2 separate regions of the Homo sapiens genome follow, and region 1 is linked to region 2. The links come from fine-mapping of genetic effects on gene expression. Tissue or cell type: monocytes after interferon gamma. Region 2 holds a variant in brackets; the other region holds the start of a gene. All regions are shown on one strand. Distances are from middle to middle.

The links. PIP is the estimated chance that this variant, and not a neighbour inherited with it, causes the effect.
Region 1: it holds the start of MNAT1, and the variant in region 2 is fine-mapped to the expression of MNAT1 in monocytes after interferon gamma (Fairfax 2014, PIP 0.95).

What each region holds. Positions count from the first base shown.
Region 1 is chr14:60,730,628-60,738,327 of GRCh38, forward strand. It overlaps MNAT1 (MNAT1 component of CDK activating kinase), which reads left to right and starts at 4,134. Exons shown (of 8, transcript NM_002431.4): 1 at 4,134-4,324. The coding sequence starts at 4,236. RefSeq lists enhancers at 4,148-4,247, 4,358-4,427.
Region 2 is chr14:60,841,743-60,849,442 of GRCh38, forward strand. The region is part of intron 6 of MNAT1 (MNAT1 component of CDK activating kinase); the gene reads left to right. Among named protein-coding and RNA genes, the nearest start is that of MNAT1, 110 kb to the left of the region's middle. The variant C/T (reference allele first, on the strand shown) is at 3,954.

The DNA.
Region 1 (7,700 bases), 110 kb before region 2:
AAGCTGAAACTTGATCCCTTCCTTACACCTTATACAAAAATTAATTCAAGATGGATTAAAGACTTAAATGTTAGACCTAAAATTATAAAAATCCTAGAAGAAAACCTAGGCAATATCATTCAGGACATAGGCATGGGCAAGGACTTCATGACTAAAACACCAAAAGCAATGGCAACAAAAGCTAAAATAGACAAATGGGATCTAATGAAACTAAAGAGCTTCTGCACAGCAAAAGAAACTACCATCAGAATGAACAGGCAACCTACAGACTGGGAGAAAATTTTTGGAATCTACTCATCTGACAAAGGGCTAATATCCAGAATCTACAAAGAACTTAAACAAATTTACAAGAAAAAAGTCAAACAACCCCATCAAAAAGTGGACAAAGGATATGAACAGACACTTTTCCAAAGAAGAGATTTATGCAGCCAACAGACACATGAAACAATGCTCATCATCACTGGTCATCAGAGAAATGCAAATCAAAACCACAATGAGATACCACCTCACACCAGTTAGAATGGTGATCATTAAAAAGTCAGGAAACAACAGGTGCTGGAGAGGATATGGAGAAATAGGAATGCTTTTACACTGTTCGTGGGAGTGTAAATAGTTCAGCCATTGTGGAAGACAGTGGGGCGATTCCTCAAAGATCTAGAACTAGAAATACCATTTGACCCAGCCATCCCATTACTGGGCATATACCCAAAGGATTATAAATCATGCTACTATAAAGACACATGCACATGTATGTTTATTGCAGCACTATTCACAATAGCAAAGACTTGGAACCAACCCAAATGTCCATCAGTGATAGACTGGATTAAGAAAATGTGGCACATATACACCATGGAATACTACGCAGCCATGAAAAAGGATGAGTTCATGTTCTTTGTAGCGACATGGATGAAACTGGAAACCATCATTCTGAGCAAACTATCACAAGGACAGAAAACCAAACACCGCATGTTCTCACTCATAGGTAGGAGTTGAACACTGAGAACACTTGGACATAGGGCAGGGAACATTACACACCGGGGCCTGACGTGGGGTGGGGAGATGGGGGAGGGATAGCATTAGGAGAAATACCTAATGTAAATGACGAGTTAATGGGTGCAGCAAACCAACACAACACATGTATACATATGTAACAAACCTGCATGTTGTGCACATGTACCCTATAACTTAAAGTATAATAATAAAAAACCTAAAAAAAATAAAGTAGTAAAACAAAAACAATACATAGGAAGCGTAAGTTTCATATGTATAGCATATAGAAAAATGCATAATTTTGAAGTTCAGAAAATGAAAAAAATTTGTTCTTAGTCAACAAAAATTCATAAAGAAAAAGAATTTGTAAACATATGAAGGTTCACCTTGGATGAACACGTTGGAAGGAACTTAAGCATGATTGAATTTTTGTGTTGAGACGAATGTGTTTTTAACCTTTCAAAATTATATGTTATGGTTGATAAATTATTTTCTCCTAAAAAAAAAAAGAAATGTAGGAAACTTGAGTTTGGTGGTTTTCTACATAGGCTGAGGTTCCATTTGAATTAGGAACCTGGTGCCGTCAGTGCTTTCCTCCTCAAAGCTCTCTGACCATTCCATGTTATTCATCCCCACCAGTGATAATGATGTACATTTCAGAGCTTCTGTAATGTATGAGGCATTGTATTAGGGCCTTTATGTATGTCTATGTCATGTAATTTAATCATTACAGCAATTTTATGAAGTGTATTATATGCAAGAAGGAAACAGGAACGGGAGGATTGGAAATTTGCTTCAAACACAGGTCTGACTGATGTAAAAGAAGGTTGGGCTCTTATTATTATATTGTCCCGCCTCTTTTAGATAATACTACTGCCAGTATCCTAATGCTACCATTAATAATGGCCAGCAGTTACTAAGCTCTTACTCTATGCTAGGTGTTTTAAATGAAGTATCTTTTATTCTTTACAAGTACTATCCTGAACTTAGAATTGGGAAAACTGAGGCTCAAGGTCATATAAATCATGTGATGAAGCCAGCACTTGAATTCAGCTCTCTTGGTACTAGAGACCAAATCTATAAGTGCTATTTTCTACTGTCTTTAGGTCCATAAGTAAAGCTTATCTGACAGATTTCCAAGTCAGCTGTTGCTACCATGCTTCCAAGTTAGTAGTTTCCCACCTAGGAAAAGGATAAAGCTTGTAGCATTGCTGCTTCTCACAATCTTTAGTGCTTTCTTTGCCTTAATCTTAAGTTTTGGGAGAAAGGAAAAGCAATTCACTTCGCAACGTGGTTGGGGTCTCATCTTCAAAGACGTAATTAAAACTGTCCTGGATAGCTGGGCATCATTACAGGCTCATGCCTGTAATCCCAGCACTTTGGGAGCCTGAGGTAGGAGGACTGCTTGAGCCCAGGAATTCAAGACCAGCCTGGGCAACATAGTGAGATCCCATTTCTTAAAAAAATAAAATAAAAAATTAGCTGGGACTGGTGGCTAGTGCCTGAGGTCCCAGCTACTTAGAAGGCTGAGGTGGGAGGATGACTTGAGCCCAGGAGTTCAAGGCTGCAATGAATTGTGATCGGGCCACTGCACTCTAGCCTGGGCAACAGAAGGAGATCCTGTTTCAAAACAAACAAACAAACACACAAAAATTGTCCTAGTGGCAATAAACTATAATGCCATCTGAGTGGATGACCTCAATGTAGTATTGGCTAAAAATTTTATTTGCACATATGACATATTCATTCTTTCACCAGAAGTTTCTTGTATGTTATCAGCTGAGCTTACATGACTATGCAGTTATAAAGAAGTATAAAGCACAGGCTATTAAATGGTCCAAAATATAAAGTACTAGAGTTGCCTTTGTTCTTGAAGAGCTTCACTCTGAATCATGTAACTGGTCTGGATGTGGTCTTTCAATAAGACAATAGCAGCAGCATAATAAGCCTCCGGGTCAGCATAGTAGCATAGTATTTGGTGTTACCTATTTTAGTAAGTTTATGTTTGGTTAACTCCTGTTGAGGAACAATATTATGATCAAAGAGATGATATGGTTTATTTATTAGATGAATCCTTGATGTCTTCATACTAATGTAAAGCTCTGTCACAGCCTGCTTTGATCTGCTGGTTCCTGGGTGTGGTATCCAGCTGTTTGTCAGCATCCCTCTCTATACCCATGGAAATCCCAACTGTATTTTTGGGTTTTGGGTTCCCTACCAGGTTCACTGTTTAAAAATGTGAATTGAATATTACTTTTTATTGAAAAGAACACAAGTTCTATGATGAGTTAAAATTACTATAAATGTTTATAGCTTATACTCATTGTATCAGATTATTTGAAAAATCTAGTTTGCATGTTCCCTTCTGATGGAGTTTGGGTCAGATGAAGGTGGTTACAAAAAATGTTTGACACTAAAAATTTTCACATTACACTATTGTTTGATAGTCATTCATTAATTCTTCACTTAGTCTACTTACTCATTAAGAATCAACAAATCTTTATTTTGGAGATGAATAAGATGTGTCCTTTACAGTGGGAAAGCTTATTATTTAATAGAGCTGTTTACAGACTTCAATTTGCCTTCTTGATAAATGTGATGAACATGGTTTACAATTTACAAAGATATTCAGGCTATCAGATCTTGGAATTGCAGAACTAAATTTTTCTGTATGTATTCTTATATGATTTTTTCCTAGGTATTTGGGGAAATAAATACTGTCTGATGGAGTAGATAGCTTTTTCATATTTTGTATCTGCGAATGCATATTATCAGCTGAGCTGACATGACTATGCAATTATAAAGAAGTATAAAGCACAGGCTATTAAATGGTCCAAAAGAAAGTAAGTACACCGCTCATAAATCTTTGAAATCATGGGAATGTTTCCAGACAGAACAAGATGGAATTTATCTTCCTAATTGTGACACAGTACCTTGAAAAATGCAACTGGGTGCGTGGAGATAAGGCTTTGTATAATTTGCCATTTTAAAAGTTCCCCTGTCAAATTCAAGGTATTAAGTTGCTTTATGGAAGGCTAAGACCAAGCCCTAGATGCAAGACCGGGGGAACTGACTGCCGGAACGTTTGTGTTGCAGCGCCTCGCCCCTTGCCGGTGCTCTTTCGCGAAGGGACCGTCTCTGCCAAGCGCCTGTTGGTAGGAACCTGCTTGGTCGCGTCTGAGGGGGCTTGTAGGTGGCTCTGGCTGAAACAGGCGCCTGCGAGAGTCTGTAGGAGGGAAACCGCCATGGACGATCAGGGTTGCCCTCGGTGTAAGACCACCAAATATCGGAACCCCTCCTTGAAGCTGATGGTGAATGTGTGCGGACACACTCTGTGAGTTGGGCGGCAGTGGATTCCCTGGGGGAGAGACGCGCTGGGTGGGAGGAGAGGACCGGGAGATGCTAGGCCTCGTCTTGGGAGCAAAGGGCGTTGTTAGTTTCAACACTGGGGAGGAAAATGGGAAAAGAAGGCGTTGTGACTTTAAATAGACTGTAGCCGCTAGCCCCGAGCGGCTCTGGCCTGCTTTGAACTGCGGGTTCTCAGTGTGGCATCCAGCAGTTTGTCAGGTTCCCCCTTCCATAGCCAATGAGTATCCCGACTGTATTTCCAGGCTTTGTGTTGTTTACTGGGCTCTGGACATCGCTGATTAAAAGCGTGGGGGATTGGAGTGTTTATTTCATATGAAATGTTTTTATTGAAAAAGTGCGAAAGTGCTATGAAAACTTAAAATTTGCTTGAGTATATACTGCTGCTATTTATTGTATGAGTTAATTAAAAAACCCTGTGTGTATGCCCACTTGTCCTGATGGAGTTCGGTTAGACTCCCATCACTAAAATGAAGAAAACCCGGACTGTAGGTAGTTAATTTTGAAGATATAATAATGGCTGGCATTTGAGTGCACATTTTGTGCCAGACAGTGTTCTAAGCGCCTTACCATGAATTATCTCAGTTCATTCCTACAACAGTCCCATGAAGTAGATACTGGTATTTCCATTTCACAGGGAAGGAAATCGAGACTGCTCAAGGTCCCTTATTAAGTGGGCCTTGAGAGAATTGGAACCCAGGAAGTCTGACTTTAGAACGCCCATTTTCAGGGGAAGGGGGCAGAAGGAGGGAGGTTGAGTTTGTGTATTTTGAAACAGGGATTGGTCAAAGTGTTTCTTGCCAGATTTCTTGTCAGATGTGGTTTAGTGAAGGTGGTTCTAGAAAGCACTTTGAGATAAAAAGGTGCCATGTAATGGCGAGCATATATTCCTGTAGTTTCTTTCAGGTTTATTGGAGGCAAAAAATAATGGATAATCTACAGTGTGTAGACAAGGTCTCCTCCCAACCCCCCAAGTGCTGACAAAAATGTAGAGCAATGACAGGGTCTTTAGGTAAGCATAAATTGCATGATTAGCTGTAGCTATAATTATTATATGGAATTTATTAGCTTACTTAACTTTTCTAATTGATCTTTATTTTCCTTTGCTTTACTCTGCAAAGAAGTATAGTAGAGCTGTGATTGAATGATTTAAGATTAGAAGTAAGGTAAAAGTAATCAAGAAGAATGCATGGAAAAGGGAATTCTACATGGAAAAACACTGTAGATAGACTGTTTTTAGAGAGATTTCGTTCAATTTCTCTCCATTTTTCTTTATCAGGTTTGTTATGGTGGAACAGGAAAGAGAGTTTGTTTTTTTTTTTGGGAAGGATACTAACTAAATGTAATTTACCAGAAGGATGCTAAATGTAATTTTCTGGCCTAGCAGCACTTAGCCATTCAGGGAAGATTATACGATTTCAGTAACATAAATGGCATTTTAATTGGGCAAGTATAAAATATTTATTTTAATTGAAATTGCTTTTGTTGTATCCTCAGCCCTTTTTGTTAAGATCTAAGAGTTAAGACTTTTGTCTAATTCATTCTGGTGTTGCATTTAATGTGGTTAATTTGCTAACCTGTTAGATAACAGGCTACATTTTACAGTCCTTTTTTGACTTGAAATGTGAACAAAATGAGTGAAAAGCTGTAGCGTATTGGCTGAGAGAACAAGCTTTGGAATGAGCCTGTCTGATTTCACATTCTTTACTCTTACCGGCTCTGTGGCCTTAGGGAAATGACTAACTCTTTGTTAGCCGTTCTTCTTGTTGGTACAATAGAGAAAATAGTGCTGCTTGTATCACGGTCCTTAAGTATTAAATAATATATGGAAAATATTTAGAGATATTTAGTATTCTGTCACATAATATTTGTTTACTATATATTGGCTATTTTATTATTATTATTCTTTGTGTGGCATGGGTGATAAGCAGAAATAAAATTAAAACAGGACTTATTTGGCCTGCTATGAAATACTTGCACAATAATGATTAGCTTTAAATGATTTCAGTACACTATGAAATGTGAAAATACAGCTTTAATTATAAGGACTCTGTTGTAATTTTCTTAATATGAACTCTTTAGCATGTTGTCTAATTAATCATCCTTTTAAAGAAGTACTTTAATCTAGGCTAACACACTGCTGTTTCTGAATGGAGGAGAGAACTCACTGATTTTTTTGGCAATCATTTAAAAAATTTAAAATTATATAAGCTATTAATAATAAAAGCAACGTAAGTTATTAAGTGAAAGGTAAAAATTTCTGTGGTTCACTTCTCCAGAGGTGACAACTTTTAGGTTGTTTGTGTATATTTTCGGATATTTTCTATGCATATACAAACATGGGTGTGTTTGGGTAGAAAACTTTTTCTTCCTTTAGCATAAACAGGAATATAGCATAAACATATATATATGTGTGTATATATATATATTTCCTTGCTTTTTTCATTATGTATATTGGATAATCTCTCTAGATCAATATGCATATGTTTTCCTCTTTTAACAATTTGATAGTAGTCCATTGTTCAAATATAATTTATTTACCCCAATTTTTAAAATTAATATTTAATTATCCAGTTTTTCCTTGGAGTAAGCATCCATAAATATGCATATATATGTACATATATGTCTTTGAGCATTTAGGCCAGTATATCATAAGATATAACAGGTAAAAATCACAAGGTAATGTCCAGTAGTAGAATTGTTGGGTCAGAGTTTGTGGCTTTTAAATTTGATAAATATGGCCCAGTTGTTCTCAAAAAAGATTATGTCAAGACAGGCATGGTTGTTCCTACCTGTAATCCTAGCTACTTGGGAGGCTGAGGAGGGAGGGTTCGAGACCAACTTGGACAACATAGGGAAACCCTATCCTTTTTTTTTTTTTTTGAGAAGGAGTCTCGCTCTGTCGCCCAGGCTAGAGTGCAGTGGCGCAATCTCGGCTCACTGCAAGCTCCGCCTCCCGGGTTCACGCCATTGTCCTGCCTCAGCCTCCCGAGTAGCTGGGACTACAGGCGCCCGCTACCACGCCCGGCTAATTTTTTTGTATTTTTAGTAGAGACGGGGTTTCAGCGTGTTAGCCAGGAGGGAAACCCTATCTTACAAAAAAAAAAAAAAAAAGATCTTGTCAATTATGTTACCAACAACTGTATGGAGATTCCTATTGCCACACAACTTTGCCTATATTGGCTAATATTATTTTTTAAAATCTTGCATTTTAAAAGATGTTTAAAAGCATCTTATCAGATGCTTTTCTGATAAGAAAAACATCTTGGATTTTTTTTTTTTTTTTTTTTGAGACGAAGTTTTGCTCTGTCACACAAGCTGGAGTGCCGTGGCATGATCTAGGC
Region 2 (7,700 bases):
ATAATCTATTATATCCTTGCAAATCTTGCTTTTAAGCATTGTTAGCATGTACAAGAACAGATTTTAATGTTAGGCTAATTTAGCTCCACTTTCATGGTGATACTATTCTGAAGACCCTATCTGATGCCATATGTATTTATTGAGAGGTCTTTTTACCTTGTTTATTGGGAATATATGAACTGTTTCTGTATGAGCTTTGAGAATTGTTTAATACGTTGCTTTCCAGGTTCATTTCTTGGTGTTCAGTAATTTCCACTCATGTGCAGCTCAAAACCCAGACAAAAGTTGAGGACATCACTGTGAAATTCTCTAGAGCAGAGGTGGACAAACGGCAGCTAACTGACTAAATCCCACCTGCTACTTGTTACTGTAATTAAAGTTTTATTGTAACATAGCCATTCTCATTCATTTACATATATTTTTCTGCTTTTACATTATAATAGCATCATTGGATAGTTATGATGCAGATCATATGGCCTGCAAAGCCTAAAATACTTATCTGCTCCTTACAGAAAATATTTGTTAACTCCCACTTTAGAGTTTTTTCTCTGTGTGGCATTTTCCTCTCTGGTAATCTGCCCTGCAAATTATAGCTGCCCTGGGATCCCTGAAGTCTGATTTTCGTCTCCTTGATTCCTAGGCTCTGTTTGGGTTACTTCTCTATGTATTATAGCCTGGAAATGGCCCCCATGCAGGAAGCCAGGGCAATCAAAGGGTTCATTTCATTTGTTTTTCTTCCCTTGGGGCTCACAGTTCTGTACTGGCTGTTACTCAATTTCTGGAAACCATTGATTCTTATTTTGTTCAGTTTTCTAGTTGCTTAAGTGGGGAATGGTCAATCTGGTCTTGTTATTGTATAATGGTCATATGCAGGAGAAGCAGCAGAATATTTTGAGACTTGTTTTTGTTGTTTTGTATATCAAGAATTAGTTGCTTTATATTGCTATGTAATATTCCATTTGTTTGAATATAAATGCTCCTCAATTTATTTGATGGGGCATGTCTAGATAAACCCATCATAAGTTGAAAATACCATAAGTCAAAAATTCATTTAATATACCTAACCTGCTGAACATCATAATTTAGTATAGGCTTCCTTAATACAAGTACTCAGAACACTTACATTAGCCCAGCATCATGAGAGAGCATCCTATTGCATGTTGCTAGCCCAGGAAAAGATCAAAATTCGAATTACAGTTTCTACTGAATGCCTGTTGATTTTGCGTCATCATGAAGTCAAAAACTTGTAAGTCAAACCGTCATAAGTCAGGGAATGTGTGTATATCTGTTTAGCAATTCTCTTGTTGGGGAATACCTGAGCTGTTTATAGTTTTTGACTATTACTAGTAAAGCAGCTGGCTGGGCACAGTGGCTCATGCCTGTAATCCTAGCACTTTCAGTCATATTTAATGTTGTCAATCTTTTTAATTTTAGTTATTTTGGTGATGATTGATAGTATCTCATTGTAATTTAGATTTTTATTTCCTGGAGAACTAATGGTTTTCAGCATTTTTTATTCATTCGTTTGCCTTTTTTCTTTTCTTTTGGGATGGAGTCTCGCTCTGTCGCCCAGGCTGGAGTACAGTGGCGCGACCTCAGCTCACTGCAAGCTCCGCCTCCCGGGTTCACGCTATTCTCCTGCCTCAGCCTCCCAAGCTGCTGGGATTACAGGCACCCACCACCATGCCCGGCTAATTTTTGGTATTTTTAGTAGAGACGGGGTTTCACCGTGTTGGCCAGGCTGGTCTCAATCTCCTGACCTCGTGATCCGCCTGTCTCGGCCTCCCAAAGTGCTGGGATTACAGGCATGAGCCACTGCGTCCGGCCTCGTTTGCCTTTTTTATATCTCTTTTTGTGATGACTCTATTAAAATCTTATGTCCATTAAAAAAATTGAGTTGTTTGTGCTTTTACTATTGATTTGTAAAATGTTTTACAATGTGTTGAACATAAGTCCTTTGTCAGACATCTGTTTTATGAATAATTTCTCTTGTCTGTGGCTCACTTTTTCTTTTTCTTAGTAATGTTTTTTGATGAACTGAAGTTATAAATTTTGATGAAGTCAGATTTATGAATGTTTTTCTTTTAAGGTAATTTTTGTGTCCTATCTAAGGAACCTTTTCCTTCCCCCAAGTCACAACGATAATTCTCCTGTTTAGAAACTTTGTAGTTTTTGCATTTATAGTTGGGTTCCTGATCCATCTTGTATTAATTTTTATGTATGGTATACAGTACCTGTTTGGGTTTCTTTTTTGCATGTGAACATTTAGTTGTATTTGTAGAGAATACTTTTCTTCATTGGATTGCTTTCACATATTTGGTGCCTTTGTTGAAAATCAATTGACTGCATATAAGTTTAGGTCTATTTCTGTTTTCCTTATTCTGTTTCAATAACTTATCTTGATTACTATAGTAATTCTTGAATTAAGGTAGTATAAGTGTTCCAATTCTTTTTCTTTTTCAAGATTGCTTTTTGCATATCCTTAACATTTTAGATTCAGTTTGTCAGTTTTTACAAAAATTCTTGGTAAAAGTATAATTGATATTCTGATTGGATCTATAGATCAATGTGGGGAGAATTAAGATCTAAAATACTGAGTCTTCCACTACATGTACATGGTATGCTTCATTTATTTAGGGCCTCTTTATCTCAGCAATGTTTTGTAGTTTTCAGTGGTTTGTGTTAGACTTATTGTCATTTTTTTCCCTAAGTATTTTATGTGTGGGATGCTCTTTTCAAGGAAATAGTTATTTCAAATCTCATTTTCTATTGCTTAATCCTGGTATGTATATTTTTACATTGGGCTTGCGTGCGATGAGCTTTTCTATTTTACTTATTGAGTAGTCGTTTTTAGATTTTTTAGGATTGTTTATATAAACAATTGTGTTAACTGCATTTAGAGACAGTTTTACTTCTCTGCCTTTTATTTCTGTTACTTGCCCTATTGCAGTGCCTTATTCCCCACCTAAGAGAGAAATCATTTAGTCTTTTGACATTATATGTCATACTAGCTGTAGAATTTTCATGAATGTCTTTCATCAGATTGAGGAAAGTTCCTTCCATTTCTAGAGTACTGAAATTTTTGAAAAGTTATGAGTAGATGTTGAATTCTGTCAAGTGCTTTTTCTGTGTTTATTAAATATCATTTTTCTTCTTTATACTGTTAGTGATTTAAATTGATTCATTTTTATATATTAACTTTGCATTCTTGTGATAAATTCTACATGGTTATGATATATGTGAATTCAATTTGATAATATTTTTATTAAGGATTTTTGTGTCTGTATTCATCAGGGATATGGCTCTATACTTTTCCTGTAGATGTCTTTGTTTAGCTTTGGAGTAATATAATGTTTTTATCAGTAATGCTAGCAATGGTTTTGTTAGCGTCATTGGCTTCACTTGAAAGTGGGGTCTACTACCTTATGTTTGAAAGAGTTTGTATGAAATTAATGTTTTTTTTTTATGTGTTTCTATAGGGTTCAGTAGTGAAACCATCTGGGACTCTAATTTGTTTGTATATAGGTTTTTTATAAACTCAGTTAAAAAATCTACTCAGCTTTTCTCTATTTTTTTTAGTAAGTTGTATTTTTCAAAGAATTTGAGAATTTCATCTAAAGTGTATTTGTTGACATAAAGTTGTTTATAATATTTTCTTAATTCTTTAAATGCCTATAAGAGTTACACTGCTAATTTTTAGCAAATTCCCAGCACTCTGCCTTTAATCTTGATTAGTCTAGGTAGATGTTGTTGATCTAGTCACTGAACCGGTTTTTTCTTAAACAGTTATTGAAGTATAATTTACATACAATAAAATCCACTCACATTAAGCATATGATTTAATAATTTTTTAGTAATATTAAAGAGATCTGCAACCATAATCTTGTTTTAGAATAGTTTATCACCTGCAGAAGATGCCTTGTGATAGTTGATAGTTACTTCTGCTTTCACTC[C/T]GAGCCCTAGGCAACCACTTCTCTACTTTCTGTTTCTGTATAGTTATCTTTTTTGACATTTTCTATAAATAGAATAATACAAAATGTAGTCTTTTGAGCCTAGCTTCTTTGACTTAGTGTAAAGTTTTTGTGCTTCATCCTTGTTTTAGTGTGGCTTTGTTAGACTTTAGTATGAGGATAATATTGACCCCATAAAATGTTTTGGAAAATATTCCCTTGTCCTCTGCTTTCTAGAAGAGTTTCTGAACCATTGGTATTATTTTTTCTTGAAATATTTGATGGAATTTACCAGTGAACCATCTGGTTTTGGCTTTTATTAATGAGAGGATTTCCAAATACTGTTTCAATTTCTTTACTAATAATAAGCCTATTCACACTTCCTTTTTCTATCCCCGTTTCTTTTTCCTTCCTCTCTTTTCCCTCCCTCTCTTCCTTTCCTCCCCTTGCCTCCCCTTCCCCATTCTCCTATTCCTTTTTCTTTTTCCTTCATTCCTTGTCTTGATATTTTGAGTATTCCTAGAAATTGGTCAGTTTCTTCTAAGTTGAATTTCTGTAGGGTCAGGATCACGTTCACTCTTTTATTTCTTATTTTGGTAGTTTTGTTCCTTCTCTTTTTTTTCCCTTGGCACATCAACCTAGCGGTGTGACAGTCTTGTTGATCTTTTCAAAGAATCAACCTTGGTTTTAAGAATTTTTAAAAAATTTTTTTTGATTTCCATTTCATTGATCTCCATTCTAATATTTATGGTTGTCCTTCTGCTTATAAGCTTTGCTCTTCTTTTCCTAATTTCTTAAGGTGGAAACTTGGGTTATTTATTTGAGGTCTTTCTTCTTTTCTAAAAATAGGCATTTAAAGCTATAATACCTCTACATACTGCTTTTGCTACAATAATATGTTGTATTTTCATATTCATACAATTGGATACATTTTTAAATTTTTTCTTGTGATTTCTTGTTTGACCATGGATTATTTAGAGGTTGTTGTTCTAATTTAATTCCACTTTGGTTTGAGGGCATGCTTTGTATGATCCCAATTTTTAAAATTTACCGTTACTTATGTTATGGCCAAATATATTTTTTATTGTGGAGAATGTTCCACAAGTACTTGAAATTTTATTCTATATTTGGGAAGAATGTGTTAGATGTTAGTTACATCATGTTGCTTGATGGTTATGTTGAAGTCTTCTGTGTCCTTACAGATTTTCTGTCTAGTTTGTCTATCAATTATTGAGTGGAGTTTTGAAATCTCTGACTATTATTGTTGAATTGTTTATTTCTCTCTCAATTCTGTCCAGCGTTGCTTCATGTATTTTGAGACTCCTTTTGTATGTTTATAATTTTTATATCTTCATGATATTGACCCTTTTATCATTATGAAATGCTTTTGTCTCTAGTAACAGTTTTTGTCTTAAAGACTTGTTTTATTTGCCGGGCACGGTGGCTCACACCTGTAATCCCCAGCACTTTGGGAGGCCGAGGCGGGCGGATCATGAGGACAGGAGATCGAGACCATCCTGGCTAACACGGTGAAACCCCGTCTCTACTAAAAATACAAAAAATTAGCTGGGTGTGTTGGCGGGCACCTGTAGTTCCAGCTACTCAGGAGGCTGAGGCAGGAGAATGGCATGAACCCAGGAGGCGGAGGTTGCAGTGAGCCAAGATCGCACCACTGCAGTCTGGCCTGGGTGAAAGAGTGAGACAACGTCTCAAAAAAAAAAAAAAAAAGACTTGTTTTATTTTAGTACAGCTACTTCAGCTCTCTTATGGTTATTGTTTACATTGTTTATCTTGTTTCACACTTTTGCTTTCAACCTATTTTATATCTTTGATTCTAATGTGTGCTGGATGTTTTTCATTTGGATAGTCTTTGTTTTTATAGTGTTCAAGCTATTTACGTTTAATGTTTGTTTTGTATATTTCTCATGGTGCTTTTTGTTCTTCTCTTCCTCATTTATTGCTCTTTTTTGTGTTAAATAGATATTTTCTTGTGCACATTTAAATTATTTTCTTTTTACTATGCATATTTTTAAGTGTTTTTATATTGGTTGACCTAGGGTTACAATATGCATATTGACTTATTACAATTGACTTCATATTAATACTAATTCAGTGTTAGTAATATGTAGAATATTTAATTCTGTATAGCTTCATTCCTTTTCCTCTCCTGGAGAGTGCCATTGTCATATGTATTATATTTTATATGCTGTAAGATTAACCATACAGTTTTACAGGTTTTTTTTTGTAGCTGTTTTGTAAATTTGTTAAGAGGAATAAAGAGAGAAAAGTTTTTATTCAGTCTTTTAGATTTGTCTATGTAATTACCTCTTGAGTATTCTTCATTTCTTTGTGAGAATTTGAGTTACTGCTTGGTATCATTTCCTTTTAGCCTGCAGGACATCTTTACTATTTTTACAGATTCCTCAGTCTTTACCTGGGAATGTCTTTATTCTGCCTCAGTTTTGTAGGGTAGTTTATTTGGATAAAGAATTCTTGGTTTAGTGTTTTTCTTTTAGCCGTTTGAATATATCGTTCCACTACCTTCTGACTTCTATGGTTTCTGATGCTAAGTCAGCTGTTAGTCTCATTGAGGGTCCATTGTGTGTGATAAGTATTTTCTCTTTTGCTGCTTTTAAGATTTTCTCTTTGTGTTCATCTTTCTGTATTTTTAGGGCCCAGCAGGGCTTTAACTTTACTAATTTTGTCACCCTTTTTGGGCTTTAGCATGAACTGGTAGTTTAGATTTTCATTGTGTTTTAAAAATAGTTACAGCCTGAATTTATTTTTATATGATTCCCTCAAGTTTTATATAATTTTCCTCAAGCTTTTATTGCCATGTAATTCAATAATACCTCTCTGAGGAATGACTACTTAAGCATCTTTGTTATAAGAAATGGTGATACCGTGTTAATTTTTTTGTTTTACTTCATGTTGTGGCGTTATGTACTGTTGCTTTCAGATTTTTTTCTTGCTTCATGGGATTTCATAAACATATCCCCTATAGATGTATTTACTCTATATATGTCACATAAAAACACATATAAAAATAAGGCTTATAATAATTAAAGTATTGACTTTTCTGGAGGACTATATAATCTTAATAAGATGTTTTCCTTTTGATAAATATTGAATGATAATCTTTAAGACTAGGTAAAAGATACCATAGTATATTTAGTATTTGCATTGAGACATGTATTAGTCTCTTTAAGAGTTAATGTCTATAAATATTTAACTCTGGACTATGTCACTGTCAAGTAATATTTTGGGCTAGAGTTCCCCACTGAGTATCTAATTTTGTTGCCTTATTCTTTTAGAAGTGTTACTGTGAGCAATAGCCAGGCAACTGAAAGAAAGAAGGTGAGTGGGACCCAAAAAGAAGGACAAAAACAGATGGAAAGGAAATAAAATAATAAGAAATTTCTTAAACAGTGTTTGTTTTGGATAGTTTTCTTGTTAAGCACATGGAAATACTTTGCACATTTGAGAATCACTGACTTACATGCTATTTTGGAGAAACAGCAAATCACTCATGTAATATAAACACAATTATAGATTTCTTTGCTGTAATTTTTTCATTTCTGGGGCTTACTTTTCCGTAAGATACAAAACGTTCCTTCTTACAGATCATTGCTTAACAATATATTTGGAGGATTGCAAATTTAAATTGAATGGTACAATTAATGCAATAAATGATAGATATTCAAAATTTCTGAATCCTGATAGTCTTGTTGAGTTATAGTCTGCTCTAAA